Linked DNA regions of Homo sapiens: region 2 is linked to region 1. Evidence: fine-mapped expression QTL. Tissue or cell type: whole blood. Region 1 holds a variant in brackets; the other region holds the start of a gene. All regions are shown on one strand. Distances are between the middles of the regions.

Evidence for each region. PIP is the estimated chance that this variant, and not a neighbour inherited with it, causes the effect.
Region 2: it holds the start of APEH, and the variant in region 1 is fine-mapped to the expression of APEH in whole blood (TOPMed, PIP above 0.99).

What each region holds. Positions count from the first base shown.
Region 1 is chr3:49,344,554-49,352,612 of GRCh38, reverse strand. No RefSeq gene overlaps it. Among named protein-coding and RNA genes, the nearest start is that of USP4, 8.5 kb to the right of the region's middle. RefSeq lists enhancers at 74-153, 2,667-2,811, 6,899-6,988, 7,079-7,198, a cis regulatory region at 2,730-2,747 and a silencer at 3,403-3,697. The variant T/A (reference allele first, on the strand shown) is at 4,629.
Region 2 is chr3:49,671,079-49,679,146 of GRCh38, reverse strand. APEH (acylaminoacyl-peptide hydrolase) reads right to left here and starts at 4,796. Exons shown (of 22, transcript NM_001640.4): 1 at 4,734-4,796; 2 at 4,526-4,658; 3 at 3,838-3,964; 4 at 3,360-3,453; 5 at 3,181-3,256; 6 at 2,928-3,091; 7 at 2,632-2,769; 8 at 2,447-2,538; 9 at 2,330-2,370; 10 at 2,123-2,244; 11 at 1,514-1,574; 12 at 198-295. The coding sequence starts at 4,745. It overlaps BSN (bassoon presynaptic cytomatrix protein), which reads right to left. Exons shown (of 12, transcript NM_003458.4): 12 at 7,598-8,068. RefSeq lists a silencer at 4,502-5,111.

The DNA of each region.
Region 1 (8,059 bases):
TCTGGTTAGGCTACAGGATAGGAACCCAGAACTTTCCAATAAACTCCAACTTCTCTCCAGGATGCCTGGTGATTGACCCCTCCTTGCCCCATGCCACCCCCACCATCTCAGTTTATGCCTTGGACTACGAGTGAAGGGAACTTTTTTTGGTTTCCCCTGAAATTACTCAGCTTCAGTAAAGGGAACTTCTGAACTCCCAGTATGCCTGATCCTGGCTGGAGAACATTTCTCCTCAGACTTTAAGCTGTATGCCTCCTCTCTCAACTAGAAGTCATTTCTTTCTTTTTTTTTTTTTGACAGGGAGTCTCGCTCTATTGCCCAGGCTGGAATGCAGTGGTGCAATTTCAGCTCACTCCAACCTGTCTCCCGGGTTCAAGCAATTCTCCTGCCTCAGCCTCCTGAGTACCCGAGACTAATTTTTTTGTATTTTTAGTAGAGGCAGGGTTTCACCATGTTGGCCAGGCTGGTCTTGGACTCCTGACTTCAAATGATCCACCCACCTGGGCCTCCCAAAGTGCTGGGATTACAGGCGTGAGCCACCATGCCCGGCCAGTCCTTTCTAACTCTCTCTTCTCCAGGAAGTTTCAGAGTAAAGCCAGTTAAGACTTCACTGTCTTCCCCCAACACACACAGACACACTCTCACACATACACATTCTTTTCATTCAACCATGCAACTGCTGCTGCTCTGACTGGTACCCACCCCACCCCATTGTGAATCAGCAGCTCAAATAAACAAGTAAAAGAGTAGAAATCACATTCAGCCTATGTGAAGTCCTGGCTTTAAAAGCAGAAATGGCTGCAGAGCATTGCTTGCACAGAAAACACATACAGCATTTAGGCCACTGACCTAGGTTCAGAAACTTCCATTTCAGCAGTTCTTACAGAAGGGCTGCTTTTGGGGTTTTTTTTCAAACATTAAATCTGATAAAATTAGGTCAGGCATTTCTTGCACAATTAGCAGTTGATCAAATGACTTCCTTATTCTGACTCAACGTAGTCCTAAAAACAACATTTAAAACAAGTTTATTTTCAGGCTCAGTGCAGTGGCTCACACCTATAATCCAAGCACTTTGGGAGGCTAAGGTGGGCAGATTGTTTGAGCTCAGGAGTTTGAGAACAGCCTGGGCAACATGGCGAAACACTGTTTCTACAAAAAAATACTGGCCAGGCAAGGTGGCTCATGCTTGTAATCCCAGCACTTTGGGAGGAAAAGGCGGGTGGATCATGAGGTCAGGAGTCCAGCCAATATGGTGAAACCCCGTCTCTACTAAAAATACGAAAATAAGCTGGGCATGGTGGTGTGCACCTATAGTCCCAGCTGCTCCAGAGGCTGAGGCAGGAGAATCGCTTAAACCTGGGAGGTGGAGGTTGCAGTGAGCTGAGATTGGGCCACTGCACTCCAGCCTGGGTAACAGAGCAAGACTCTGTCTCAAAAAAAAAAAAAAAAAAAAAAAGAGCCAAGCTTTGTGGCACATGACTGTGGTACCAGCCAGCTACTTGGGCAGCTGAGGTCAGAACATTGCTTAAGCCCAGGAGATCGAGGCTGCAGTGAGCTGATTGCGCCACTGTACTCCAGCCTGGAAGACAGAGTGAGACCCTGTCTCAAAATAAATAAAACAAGTTTATTTTCAGAAAAGCATTCCTGGCCTGATAAGTCTAATAAATCTCTTACATTTTAACTTTTGGATAAGATAGAGTAAAAAGTACTGGCTAAAGATCTCCCCAAGGGGCCAGGCATGGTTGCATGTACCTGTAGTCCCATCTACTCAGGAGGCTGAGGTGGGGGGAATCACTTGAGCCCAGAGGGTCAAGGCTGCAGTGAACTGAGATTGTGCCACTTCACTCCAGCCTGTGCGACTCCAGCCTGGGCTGTCTCAAAATAAACAAACAAAAAACCCCCCAAAAAACCAACCTGGCCAACATGGTGAAACCTTGTCTCTACCAAAAAATACAAAAATTAGACGAGTGTGAGGCGGGCGGATCATTTGAGGTCAGGAGTTTGAGATCAGCCTGGCCAACATGGTCAAACCCTATCTCTACTAAGAATACAAAAATTAGCTGGGCATAGTGGTGCCCTCCTGTAATCCCAGCTACTTGGGAGGCTGAGGTAGGAGAATTGCTTGAACCTGGGAGATCGAGGTTGCAGAAGCCAAGATTGTGCCACTGCACTCCAGTCTAGGTGACAGAGTGAGACTCCATCTCAAAAACAGAAACAAAATTAGTCGCACATGGTGGCGTGTGCCTGTAGTCCCAGCTACTTGGGAGGCTGAGGTGGGTGACTCGCTTGAACCCAGGAGGCGGAGGTTGCAGTGAGCTGAGATTGTGCCACTGCCCTCCAGCCTGGGCAACAGAGACAGACCCTGTCTCAAAAAAAAAAAAAAATTTTTTTCCCAAGAAAACACAGCATGGGTTTATAAAGAGCAGGCCATGATCCCTATCAGAGTACTCTGAATTGACATGTTTTTGTTACTGCACTCACGAAGTAAGCGGGAAGAGTATGCATTCACATACAGGTGTGACACACCTGGGCGGGCACTGAAATAAAGCCCAGCTCCAGCCAGCCACAGAGATTAATGGGTATCTGCCTCACATCAGACACTGACTGATTGGGAGCTGAGGGGGACAAATGTCAGAAGTCCTTGTCCAAGAAATGAGGTCTCATAGGCCTTGGCCCTGAAATGGTGTAATTCTCACTGCCTCTCAGAGAGGCTGTGTACAGAGACATTGCTTATCTCTACTCAACAGCCATTCCCAAGTCCTTCCTCCTGGCTGGCTGGCAGAATCTACTTTCCTGCTGTAAAGATAGGGGCAGGTGACCTAATCTTGGCTATGAAGAGATGCAGAGGCTCCTGGGAAAGCCCCCATGATCCCAGGAAACAGGATCTTGTTTCCTCTCTCCCTTCTCACTGGTGGGTGTTGTTGAGGGTACCCAAAATTCTGGGAGCAAGGCAGCCACGTTGGAGCTTTGAAGGCAAAGAACTAGAAGGCCCCAGATAAACAAACTGATGTCTTTCAGCTTTGACCTTCCCAAGAACTCAACTCCAGACGTGTCATGTGAAAAAACAAGAACCACCAAATAGGTGGGCCAATTGCTGCTGGGGATTCTGTTAGTTGCATCTAGAAGCATTGAGACTGACATGACATGACAGTGGTGTACTGGGCAGGGGTGCTAGGCAACTTGTTGGCCCTAACTGGCTGGCAGAATATTTTCCTAGCCAGCCTTACCTGTTGTAAATGTAAGGGCAGGTGACCTGATCTTGGCTGTGAAGAGACGCAGAGGCTCCTGGGAGACCCACTTTTAGTGCCCCTCACAGGTCCAGTGTAATTGTGGCCCTCAAGACCAGTAGAGGAGACCACAAAGCAAGCCCACTTGATCCAAATTCCTAGAGCTCTAGCAGCATTCAGGAACACATGTAGCTTACCCTCAGTGGTGTCCTACAGTTCTGAAGACCACCTGGCTTCATAGGGAAGCAAGTGAAGGGAATCTAAATCTCCCTGCAGCAGAATACCCCAGTCACCTTTGTCCCCAGCACATGACTGTGTGTGTGTGCATGTACATGTGAGTGAATCTAAAGTCCAGGTCTCATGCCAGGTACAGTGGCTCACGCCTATAATCCCAGCACTTTGGGAGGCCGAGGCAGGTGGATCACCTGAGGTAAGAAGTTCAAGACCAGTCTGGCCAACATCCAACATGGCAAAACCACATATCTTTTTCTTTTCTTTTTCTTTTTTTTTTTTGGAGTTTTGCTCTTGTTGCACAGGCTGGAGTGCAGTGGTGTGATCTCGTCTCACTGCAACCTCCACCTCCCAGGTTCAAGTGATTCTCCTGACTCAGGCTCCTGAGTAGCTGGGATTACAGGCGTCTGCCACCATGCCTGGCTAATTTTTTGTGTTTTTAGTAGAGATGGAATTTCACTATGTTGGCCAGGCTGGTCTTGAACTCCTGACTTCAGGTGATCCACCCGCCTCATCCTCCCAAAGTTATAGGGTTACAGGCGTGAGCCACCACGCCTGGCCTGGCGAAACCACATCTCTACAAAAAATACAAAAAAAAATTAGCTGTGTGTGGTGGCGCACGCCTGTAGTCCCCAGCTACTGGGGAGGCCGAGGCATGAGAATTGCTTGAACCCAGGAAGTGGAGGTTGCAGCGAGCCGAGATTGTGCCACTGCACTACAACCTGCGTGACAAAGTGAGACTCTGTCAAACACACACAAAAAAAAGTAATAAAAAAAATAGGCCGGGCATGGTGGCTCACGCCTGTAATCCCAGCACTTTGAGAGGCTGAGGCCGGCAGATCACCAGGTCAGGAGATCGAGACCATCTTGGCTAACATGGTGAAACCCCATCTCTACTAAACAAAATACAAAAAATGAGCCGGGCGTGGTGGCGGGAGCCTGTAGTCCCAGCTCCTCGGGAGGCTGAGGCAGGAGAATGGCAGGAGCCTGCGAGGCGGAGCTTGCAGTGAGCAGAGATGGCGCCACTGCACTCCAGCCTGGGCAACAGAGCGAGACTCTGTCTCAAAAAAAATAAATAAATAAAAAAATAAAGTCGGCTGTGTGGGGTGGCTCACGCCTGTAATCCCAGCACTTTGGGAGGCCGAGGCGGGCAGATCATGAGGTCAGGAG[T/A]TCAAGGCCAACCTGGCTAACACAGTGAAACCCTATCTCTACTAAAAATACAAAAAAAAAAAAAAAATTAGCTGGGCGTGGTGTCAGGTGCCTGTAGTCCCAGCTACTCAGGAGGCTGAGGCAGGAGAATGGCATGAACCCGGGAGGCGGAGCTTACAGTGAGCCAAGATTGCGCCACTGTGCTCCAGCCTGGGTGACAGAGTGAGACTCTGTCTTAAAAAAATAAATAAAAATAAAAAATAAAGTCCTGGTCTCCTGAGCATCCTTTGTGGATGTCATCATATACCCCCAAAGGCCAAAAGGAATATTAAGTATGCCTTTGCTTTCTACACTAGTTGCTTAAGTTTCCTTCCCAGGGAAGTATCTGCAAGCATGACCCTTCATGTTCTTGTGACACTTTTTTTTTTTTGAGGCAGAGTTTTGCTCTGTTGCCCAGGCTGGAGTGCAGTGGCTCGATCTCGGCTCACTGCAAGCTCTGCCTCCCGGGTTCACACCATTCTCCTGCCTCAGCCTCCCAAGTAGCTGGGACTACAGGTGTCCACCACCACACCGGGCTAATTTTTTTGTATTTTTAGTAGAGATAGGGTTTCACGGTGTTAGCCAGGACGGTCTTGATCTCCTAACCTCGTGATCTGCCCACCTCAGCCTCCCAAAGTGCTGGGATTCCAGGCGTGAGCCACTGCACCCGGCCCCTGTGACACTTTTACCACACAACATACAATACTGTATTACATATGTAACCATCCTTCATCCCTAACCACACTGTGAACCCTGGAGGGTAGGGACCATGAGCACATAATACTCAAGTACTATTAGTCCAGTGAAGAAATGACTAATAGCCGGATCATTCTTTCTTTCATTTATGCAAGAAATGCCTACTGAGAATTCGCACTGTGGAAAGGGCAAAGGATACACGCAAATTAACGTTAAATACTGGTTCATGGTTAAGACTGTGATGGTAATAGAATTACAGGAGGAAGACAAGACACTGGCGGCACCTGGGCCCAGGCTGCCACACCCTCTGCCCGAAGAGGGCTGGCCATCAACACAAGTGGCATAACCAGAATGGAATCTGTCCATTGGCACAACTCCTCCATATAAAAAAAGTGATCCCACTTCCTCTCTGTGAGACTTGTTCAGTTTTTTGCCTCTATTATCTTCTGCAAGAACCTAATCCTTATATAACAGAGGTTAGAAATCACTGAGAAGACATTTAATTCTTCTAAAGTGTGCTTCTAGAATCTTTTTCTTTTCACAGTCCCCTGGGCAGGTTAAGGAGGCACAGGTGAGAAGGAACCAAAAATATTTCTCCCCTGTTGCCACCTCCAATTAAAATATGTCTAATATTTGTGAATACTGCCACGTGTGCTCTGTTAGTGCTGGCCAAGTGTGGACCAAGAATAACTTGGGAGAGCCAAGTCCTATCAGGTGTAAAGAAAACTGTGGTAGCAGCTAAGACAAAAACCTTATGATTTGGAATAAAATAAAGCTTAAAGGCCAGGCGTGGTAGTTCAAGCCTGTAATCCAAGCACTTTGGGAGGCCGAGGCGGGTGGATCACCTGAGGTCAGGAGTTCAGGAACAGCCTGGCCAACATGGTGAAACCCCGTTTCTACTAAAAATACAAAAATCACCTGGGCGTGGTGGCCGGTGCCTGTAATCCCAGCTACTAGGGAGGCTGAGGCAGGAGAATCCCTTGAACCCAGGAGGCGGAGGTGGCAGTGAGCGGAGATTGCGCCACTGCATTCCAGGCTGGGTGACAGACTAAGACCTTGTTTCAAAAAAAAAAAAAAAAAAAAAGCATAAAGTTCACACACCCAGACATTATTAATCTTTTTTTTTGAGACGGAGTTTCGCTCTTGTTGCCCAGGCTGGAGTGCAGTGGTGCAATCTTGGCTCACTGCAACCTCCGCCTCCTGGGTTCAAACTATTCTCTTGCCTCAGCCTCCCAAGTAGGTGGGGCTACAGGAATGCACTACCATGCCCAGATAATTCTGTATTTTCAATAGAGATGGGGTTTCACCATGTTGGTCAAGCTGGTCTCAAACTCCTGACCTCAGGTGAACCACCTGCCTCGGCCTCCCAAAGTACTGGGATTACAGGTGTGAGCCACCGTGCCCGGCCTGACATTATGAATCTTTTTTTTTTTTTTTTTTTTTGAGATAGGGTCTCGCTCTGTCACCCAGGCTGGAGTGCAGTGGCGCAATCTTGGCTCAGTGCCAGCTCCGCCTCCCGGGTTCATGCCATTCTCCTGCCTCAGCCTCCTGAGTAGCTGGGACTACAGGCACCCACCACCACGCCCGGCTAATTTTTTGTATTTTTAGTAGAGACGGGGTTTCACTGTGTTAGCCAGGATGATCTCGATCTCCTGACCTCGTGATCCGCCCTTCTCGGCCTTCCAAAGTGCTGGGATTACAAGCGTAAGCCACCGCGCCCGGCCAACATTATGAATCTTTAATTAGACATCACAGTCCAAGATCAACTAGTATGTGACCAATAAGCCAGGTTTTCTTCTAGCTCCCTTCCTGGTTTCTCTTCTGTTCTTGTGGCCCAAGGTCCTCTGGTAATGGATGGATTGTCCACTTCTGGGATCTTGGTGTCCTACCGGGCCTATGGTTCTCTCTAGGATAAAGTGGCTCAACATAGAACACAGCTCTGGTGCCAAGATGTCTCTGAGCTGAATCAGTCACCCTTGTCATTTCCTCCCAAGTCCCTAGGTCACTACCACAACAGGAACACGCAGGCAGATGTTCATTGTTTCCAGTTCTCTTTTTTGTTTTATTTTTGAGACAGGATCTTGCTCTGTCACCCAGGCTGGAGTGCAGTGGCACGATCATAGGATCACAGCTCTCTGCAACTTCAAACTCCTGGGCTAAAAAGATCCTCCCACCTTGGCCTACTTAATAGCTGGGATTACAGGTGCACGTCACCATGCCAGGCTAATTGTTTTATTTTAAATTTTTAAATTTTTTTTTCCTTTTTTTGAGATGAAGTTTCACTCTTGTTGCCCAGACTAGAGTGCAGTGGCGTGATCTTGGCTCACGGCAACCTCCGCCTCCTGGGTTCAAGTGATTCTCCTGCCTCAGCCTCCCAAGTAGCTGGGATTACAGGCGAGCACCACCATGCCCAGCTAATTTCTATGTTTTTAGTAGAGACTGGGTTTCACTAGGTTGGCCAGGCTGGTCTCAAATTCCTGACCTCAAGTGACCTGCCCACCTCAGCCTACCAAAGTGCTGGGATTGCAGGAGTGAGCCGTGCCTGGCCCTGGTTTTTTTGCCTCCTAAGTAGTTGTGACTACAGAATGAGATTCTGTCTCAAAAAACAAAACAAAACAAAAAACGGCTCAGCGTGGTGGCTCACACGTGTAATCTCAACACTTTGGGAGGCAGAGGTGGACAGAGTGCTTGAGCCCTGGGGAACAGGGCAGAAGTTG
Region 2 (8,068 bases), 330 kb before region 1:
GCCTGAGTTCTGCTGTGGTGCACCAGGGCAGCCAGTCCCCTCCAGGAGAAATGAGTCCAGGATGGGCAGGCAGGGTTTTAAGGGGCTGATGAGACTTTGTGGCTGGGCATTCCACCCAGGGGCATGCACATGCAACCCCCAGGGCTCCTGGGGGTTGACCACAGGGGCTGCCCCTCAACACAATCAGCGTCCCTCACCTGCCGGCTGCGCTGAGCCGAGTCAAAGACCACTCTCTGGCTGTCAGCTGACCAGCATCCCAAAGGCAGAAGGCTGCAGTAGATCCCAGAGAAGTTCTCTGTAAAGATAGGAGGGCTGAGGCTGCATCCAGGAGTGGAGGTAGGGAGGGTAGTCTACAAGGAAGGCTAGGGTACTGGGGAATTCACCCAGGGCCCTACTCAGGCACCAGTCAGGCCCCTGCAGCTTGTAGCACACATGGGGGCACGCTACGCGATGAGGAGCTGCCTGAGTAGGTGGCTGAGGGGCAGAGGCCTCTTGGGACCCAGAGAGGACCCAGAGAGGCAGAGCTCAAGAGCTCCAGAGAGAAACCATGGGTGCTCAGAGGAAAAGCACTTGCTCTCCTGAGTAATTCCAGTTGAACCCAGGTAGGTACCAGGTGCTTTAACCAAGATATCATCTGTCCGTCTTATCTCCACTGTGGTGCTTAGCACAGCGCTTGGCACAGGGGGCTCAGTAAATCCTACCCTTTAATATCATCACTCACTTAACACTCACTATGATCCTATGAGGCAGGCAGACACAATCACCCCTCCATGAAGAAATGGGAGCTCAGGGAGGCCAGGACCCTGTCTGAGGACACAGCTAATTTAGGGCAGAGCTGGGATTCATACTAGGTTCCCACCACTGCATCCCTGCAACCCAAAGAGAAGACAAAGAGGCTATCCCTTGTCCACTGAACTCCTGGAACTGACCGGGTGGCCTGAGAAAACAAGAGACTCATCCTTGAGATGGTCCAGGAGGATCCAAGCAGAGCTATCAACACTCGAGACGGGAGCCTCTCAGCCAAGAGCCACCCTCCTGAAGACCCAGCTGACTTCAGGGCTTAGACTGGACAAAGGTTGCTGGGGTTAGGATGGTGGATGGGATAATATCATGCCCTCGGGTCCAGAGCCTCTCGAGTGTGACATTCCAACCTAGTGCACTTCCTGAGACCCACTTGAAGGAGTCATGGTTTTGGTTTGAACCAGCCATTGGAAAAATAAGAAAACTCTAATTATGACCTGCAGCACAGGAAATAATACATCATCAACTTGGGCCACTCTGATCTCAGCTTGGTCCTACCACTCCTTGCTATTGAACTGTTCCCTACGGTGACAGCCCCGCTCCCTATGGTGACAGCCCCGCTCCCTGAGGATGCTGGGCATAAGGCTGGCCCAGCAGGGAGGTAGGGCCCTCAGAAGGAACCTAGGAAAGAAGAACGGGGCAGGGATGCAACAGACGGCAGGAAAGCAGAGCTACAGGCCCCACTGCACCCACCCAGCCAGGTATGCCTTACCTCCCAGCTGCCGAGGCACAACATCTACCACCACTGAGGTAACCTTGGTATACCAGTCATACTGCAAGAGAACACAATGGTCAGGTCCAGTAGGGGACAGGCAGTTCCCTTAGGGCACAGTGCCCTGTGCCTATCCCCTTTTGCCTCAGGTAGCCCCAGGAGATGGGGGAACTGGAATAAGCCTGATGTATCTCTTTTCTGGTGACCTGGACCAGATGCCCAAGGGGCCTCAGATAGGCATGTCCCTCTGACTTTTACCAGGGGCCCAGAGCTCTTCCTGGGGAGGGTCTGGGATTGTGTAACTCCCCACTATATCCCAGCCCCTTGCAGAGCCTGGCTACATGCAGTTGAGAGCCAAGGGGAGGAGCATTCTTGCAGACGAGCATTCTCTCAAGGTGGAATGCCCCAACAGTGCAAAGCTCTCCATGGCAGCACTCTCAACCTCTAGGCCCTCCTTGAGAGGACAGGCAGAACTCACACCGCTGCTGCATTGAGGACAGAAGGGCACCTACTGAGGGCCTATGGGGAGATGATACTGGCCCTTCAGCTCTCATCCACCATCCCATCTTCTTGCTGACCACCCTCCCATCCCTGCCACCTCCAGCTCACCAGGCACAGCTGGCTGCATTGGTGATGGGGGATCAGAGATGGGTACTGCAGGTAGACAATGCGACATTGGTCTGGGCTCAGCCGGGGAGAAGAGACAGCCAGGGAGTCATCCGAGAGGAGCTCTGGGCCAGATGGAAACATGAGCATCACGCAGGCTGGCAGGGCCAACATGTGTCAGCAAAGCACAGGTGGGCATCAGCCACTTACCACACTTCCCCCCGATGAGGTCCACATAATACAGGGCTGACCTGGAACCACGAGACAGACACTCAGTCTCAAGGCCAGCTGGGCTGCAAGGCCCCTTGCCTTGCCCCACTCCCTCACCTGCGATTGGTGCAAAAGCGGATGCCCAACCGGAAGGGCTCATGCCACCAGCCCACAAACACCACACCAGCATCTCCAGGGGCCCAAAATGCCTGTAAACAGGATCAAAGGGCAGGAGTGAGCAAGGGGTGGTAGCTCAAGAAGGGTCCCAGACTCCAGGGGGGACACAGGCTGTTGCTGCTGACCTGTCCAGGGGACACATTCTCAGGGACCCCCTCAAGCACAGAGATGTTGCCACTCTCGACATCCAGCACGCAGAGCACAGGGATGCTTTTGGAAACCATGTTTTCTCCCCAGTCTTCATAAAACACAAACTGATCCCCCTGAGAACACAAGATACTCAATGCCCAGCCTGTCTATAGGACCTGCTCTGCTTCCTAAAAGCTAGTGCCTCCCCAGGTCTGACAGGCACAGTATGGGAAGGGAGCACACTGAGCCCCAGGGCTGCCCTGCCGGGCCTTCGTGGATTGACCACGAGCACCTTGATGGCTTGGTCTGGCTTCTTCAGCCTGGCTATCTCATCATCGCTGGCACTGACGTCCAAGGCTTTGGTCTGAAAGAAGGACTCGGCCTTGGGGCGCTTCTTCTCTGCCACATACAACAAGTGTGTCTCCGAGTGCGACCAGGACAGGCAGCCAAAGCAGTCTGGGTGCAGGGAGGGCCAATCAGGGGGGGCCCAGGGCTACGGCTACCCCTCCTGTCCACCCTGCCTGCTCACCAGCCAGATGCCTCACCATCCTCATAAACAGGCCCATGTTTCTCCAGCGCTGACAGGTTGAAGCTCTTGAGCTTCCGGTTCTTCTCCCAGACCTGAGGACATCTGGGCATTAGGCTGTTTGCCCGCTAACAGAGCCTTATCTGTGGGGCAGAGCCTCTCTCTTGTCACCCACTACCTGGTCCCATGCAGACTCACCTCCAGGAACTGCTTCTCTTCCCCAGGGCCCGTGCCTCCAGCCTTGCGCAGCACAGCTTTCATGGTGCCTGAAGGAGACTCTCTGCTCAGCAGTCTGTGGACATGGGGTAGCACAGGTCAGGATTATCTTGCAATAACCCCTTCCTGCTCCCTACTGGGCACACCTCTTAGGAGAGATTCTTGAGGCTCTGGCCCCACACCAGCTTCTGGAGCACCTCTAGCCCCACCTTGCCTTTCCTCCCTGAGGCAGAGACTCTACTCTCTGCAACTCCCCAGGCCACCATGGGCTCTAGTCCAGGCTGAGTTTGGAGCAAGCTTCCAGTGCTTATCAGGCCATGTCACCAGAAACTGAATGAGCTCCCAAGGGGGCAAGAACCTGGCTGCTGGCCTCCCTTCTAGGCACATGGTGAGCATTCATAAAAGGCTTGCATTGCGGACGGCTGTGGCCTTGCCCACAAGCTTCCTCCCTCAAACTTACTCCCCCCGGGTCTCCACACTGTTGCCTGCAGGTCCTGCAAACACCACTGAGTCCCCGTCATGGAACACCAGGTATTGGCGGCAGAATCGAATGTTCTCCATGCGTTCCAGGTCCCTCTGGGTCCACTCTGTGAGGGGAGGCATGAGACTGCTCACCTTGTCTTGGCTACTCCTGGCTACTGCCCCCAGCCCCACCTGACCCAGGAAGGCCTAGATCTATCTTCCCCAATCTCTCAATCTGTCTCCAGACACTGACACCCTGGCTGCAGGCTGGACAACACTTGGCCACAACCCTAGTCCAGGCCTCCAGAGCCTGAGCTGACAGCCTCTTTGAGAGAACCCCCTAGTAACCCCAGCATCCACCCTGGAATCTTGAGGGCAGCCTGGCATGTGTATGGGATGGCGTGTTGGTGGAGAGCCCTACAAGGTCCACGCCCTGAGCCCAGGTTTGACTTCTACCCCTACGCCGTCATCTCGTGCACTCATGGCCGCCATTCGATAACGCCCCGCACGCCCCCTCCCCCCCTCCACACACCTGTGTGCAGGGACCTGTGGGAGTGTAACCTCCAAGTCCAGGCCGGCTCCCTATATACCCTTACGCACTGTCAAGCAGCGAGCCCTCCACACCCCCTTCCTTCCCACCCCAGTGCGCGACCCCGTCGCCAGCCAGTTCCCCTTCGCACACACACCAGTGTGCACCGTCCGGTATTGGCCGCCGTACTGCGTGGTGACCTCCGGGCCCAGGCAGGCGGCGCTCAGCGCGGGCTGGCGGCTAAGGCCCCGATACAGAGCCGCCGCCTCCTCGGGCTCGCTCAGCAGCACCTGCGCAGGGGACACACCAGGGTCAGGCCCGGCCCGGGCTGCAGGGACCACGGGGACCGCGGGCCGAGCCCTCACCTGACGTTCCATAGTCTCCTCTCTGCCGCCGGGGCGAGGCGGGGCGTGCTCGCGCCCGGAAGTGAGGCTTCCGGGGGCGGAGCCTGGGACGGCCCGGGCTGTCTCCGCCCCTGCCCTGCGGCAATCTGTGAGGGGCGGGGCCTTCGGCTAATGGGTGAGGACCGTTGGCAGGGGGCGGGCCTTGACGGTGAGAGGACCCGGCCTGGGAGCGAGAAGTCCTGGGTGGGTGAGAGCAGGGGTCTCGCCAGGGGCGGACTAGCCAAGTGGGGGGCGGGGCCGTGGGCTGAGTCCTGGGCCTCTTACCGAGGGGCGAGGCGTTGGATCTCGGAGGAGAGGGGGCGGCCCTGTGGAAGCGGAACCCGGGAGCCCGGCTTCGGGGAGGGTAGAAGGGCCTACGAGAGAAGGGGTTGAGGGGGTGCTGCAAGGCGGAAGCAGCGCGGTCGGACGGGCATGGCCCAAGCACGCGAAGGGCGGGGCCCGAGGGGAATGGGACCAATGAGTCTTTGAGGATGAAGGGCAAGGCGGGCGGGTCCGGATTGGAGCCCTGCGAGGAATGTGGAGCCGGGAGCCTGTGAGCGTGAGCGTGAGCGTGAGCGTGAGCGTGAGCGTGAGGGTGAGGGTTGGGCGGGGCGGAGCCGGCCGCAGCGTGGATCTCCCGCGGCTCTGGGGCTGACTGTAGGGTTCCTTCGGGTCCACCACGAGGCCGACATTCACTACACAGTGCCAGGCCCTGCCCTGGAGGGAGTTCCACGCAGACGAAGAAGAGAAGGGCCAGGGTCCGGGCGGAGGGCGCGAAGCAAAGCCCTGGGGTGCGGGGCAGAGGGGCGGGTGCCAACTCTTAGGGTGCTGCCCGGACTTATCAGTCGCCAGGCCTGCCGCAAGAGCTATCTATCCCCGCAGCCTTTACCCAGCCTTCTCAGTGGCACCTTGTTGGGGACCGTGAGCTGGTGGGTCCCTGCCTTCCTCCCCAGGCCTCACCCTGAGCTCTTGGGTGTGAAAGGCCTGGTGGGCTCAGACTCCACCCAGGACCAGGGAGCTTCCTGTGGAAAAAACCTAGGCAGGCAGGTTCCCTGTGCACGTGGTACAGGATTGGCTGGGCTAAGGTGCCAACAGAGATCAGGAGAGGCTGGACAGTAAGGATGTTCCCTCCATATACCTGAGTCTGGCTGGTCTTCCACATTCAGGGCCCTGGCTCCCTGCTCCATGGCGTGCTTGTGATTGAGAGTCCACTTGTCTGGCCTGTAGCTTCCCCTTTCCCATCAGCCGCATCATTACTTACTCAAGATAACTAGTTAAGTAAAAAAAAAAAAAAAAAAAAAAAAAAAAGTCCCGGCCGGCCGGGCGCGGTGGCTCACGCCTGTAATCCCTGCACTTTGGAAGGCCGAGGCGGGCGGATCACGAGGTCAGGAGATCGAGACCATCCTGGCTAACACGGTGAAACCCTGTCTCTACTAAAAATACAAAAAATTAGCTGGGCATGGTGGCAGGCGCCTGTAGTCCCAGTTACTCGGGAGGCTGAGGCAGGAGAATGGTGTGAACCCGGGAGGCGGAGCTTGCAGTGAGCCGAGATCGCGCCACTGCACTCCATCCTGGGCGACAGCCAGAGTCCATCTTAAAAAAAAAAAAAAAAAAGTGCCAGGCGCGGTGGCTCACGCCTATAATCCTAGCACTTTGGGAGGCTGAGGCGGGTGGATCACCTGAGGCCAGGAGTTCGGGATCAGCTTGGCCAACATGGAGAAACCCTGTCTCTACTAAAAATACAAAAATTAGCCGGGCTGGGTGGCACGCGCCTGTAATCCCAGCTACTCGGGAGGCTGAGGCAGGAGAATCGCTTGAACCTGGGAAGTGGAGGTTGCAGTGAGCCGAGATCATGCCACTGCACTCCAGCCTGGGCAACAAGAGTGAAACTCCGTCTCAAGAAAAAAAAAAAAAAAGAGTCCCAACTTTCTGACGCCACTGCATTTGTCAGTATGTACAGGACTGTATCAAGGCCAGAAACAGGAGTAGAATGAGTGGCCCCAGCCACCAATTTGGGTGGAAAGATTGGAAAATAGGATGTTCATCAAGCATTGTTTATAATAGGAACACTGGGAACATAGTGCCTGTTCCTTAGATTGTGTGTGGTAGACTGGCTATGAACTAATGGTGTATCTCTCTGGAGGTTGAGCACTGGAAGACGAACATTTAAGTACCTGAAATAAACGTGGAAATAAACAGAAAGCTAGAAAACAGGATATATTGCACCTTCTGGCTTCTGTTTAAAATGAAGACTGGAACAACAAACAGGAAAGAAGGACACGCATCAAAATGTTAATTCTGGGGAGAGGGCCAGAGGTGAAGCTGGGATTCCTGTTTATCTGTGTTAAAAAAAAAAAAAAAAAAAAAAAAGGTCTAGCAACTCTGGGTGACTTCGGTAAGGAGGTACTCCTGACCATCTGAGGAAGGCCTAAGGTCTGGCAGCCGGTGAGAGTTTGGGGGTTGGAAAATTCGGAGCAAGGCAGAGAGGTGTAGGGCTTGTTGGCAGCACCAGGGGGCAGCACTTGTTCACTGCCTCCCTGGAACCAGGTCCCAGAAAGCTGTGTATGCAGCCAACACACCTGAAGGCCATGGAGGTGCTGTCCCTCAACAGCCTGCGCACTGACTGCCTGCTCCAGGTCCAAGCTTGGGACCTCCCCTTGGGCACCTTTGTGGAGGGCCCATTGTCTTTGGATGGCTTGGTGTGGACTCAGCCCCGTGCTGTGCCAGCACTTCTGCAACTTTGTCCATCCTTTTCCCTTTAACCATGGACAGGATTGTCGCAAATTTGGGGATTTGCTCCTTCAGCTAAGCCTTCCCACTTGAGAAACCATCCCAGAAACAGTCTGTAGGTTGTTTATATCAAGTCCTTTTATTCTGATACCACAGAATTACCTTGTCACAATACAGGGGGAGGGACACTGAAGTACCACGAGTTCTCACAGAGCACAGAAGGACAGCACACAATTCACAAGGTCATGTGGAGGACTCGGGTCATTGCACTTACAACTGTAAACTTGTTTGTTTGACTTTGTACAGCACTCTTCCCCCCTCAAATAAAGAAGGAGAGAAGGAAAGAAAGGGAGAGAGGGAGGAGGAAGGGGAAAGCAAAAACAAGACATGAAAGCTAGAGGAAAAGGTATTGAGTGGCCACCACTCTCCAGGGTAGTGCACTTGGAGAGAAGGAGCTGATTTGACCCCAGAAACTGAATGAGGCAGAAACACACACACACACACACACGCACGCACGCACGCACATACACACATGATCATGTGCATACACATACAATATCTCACGACTGCCATGGCTCTCCAGTGCC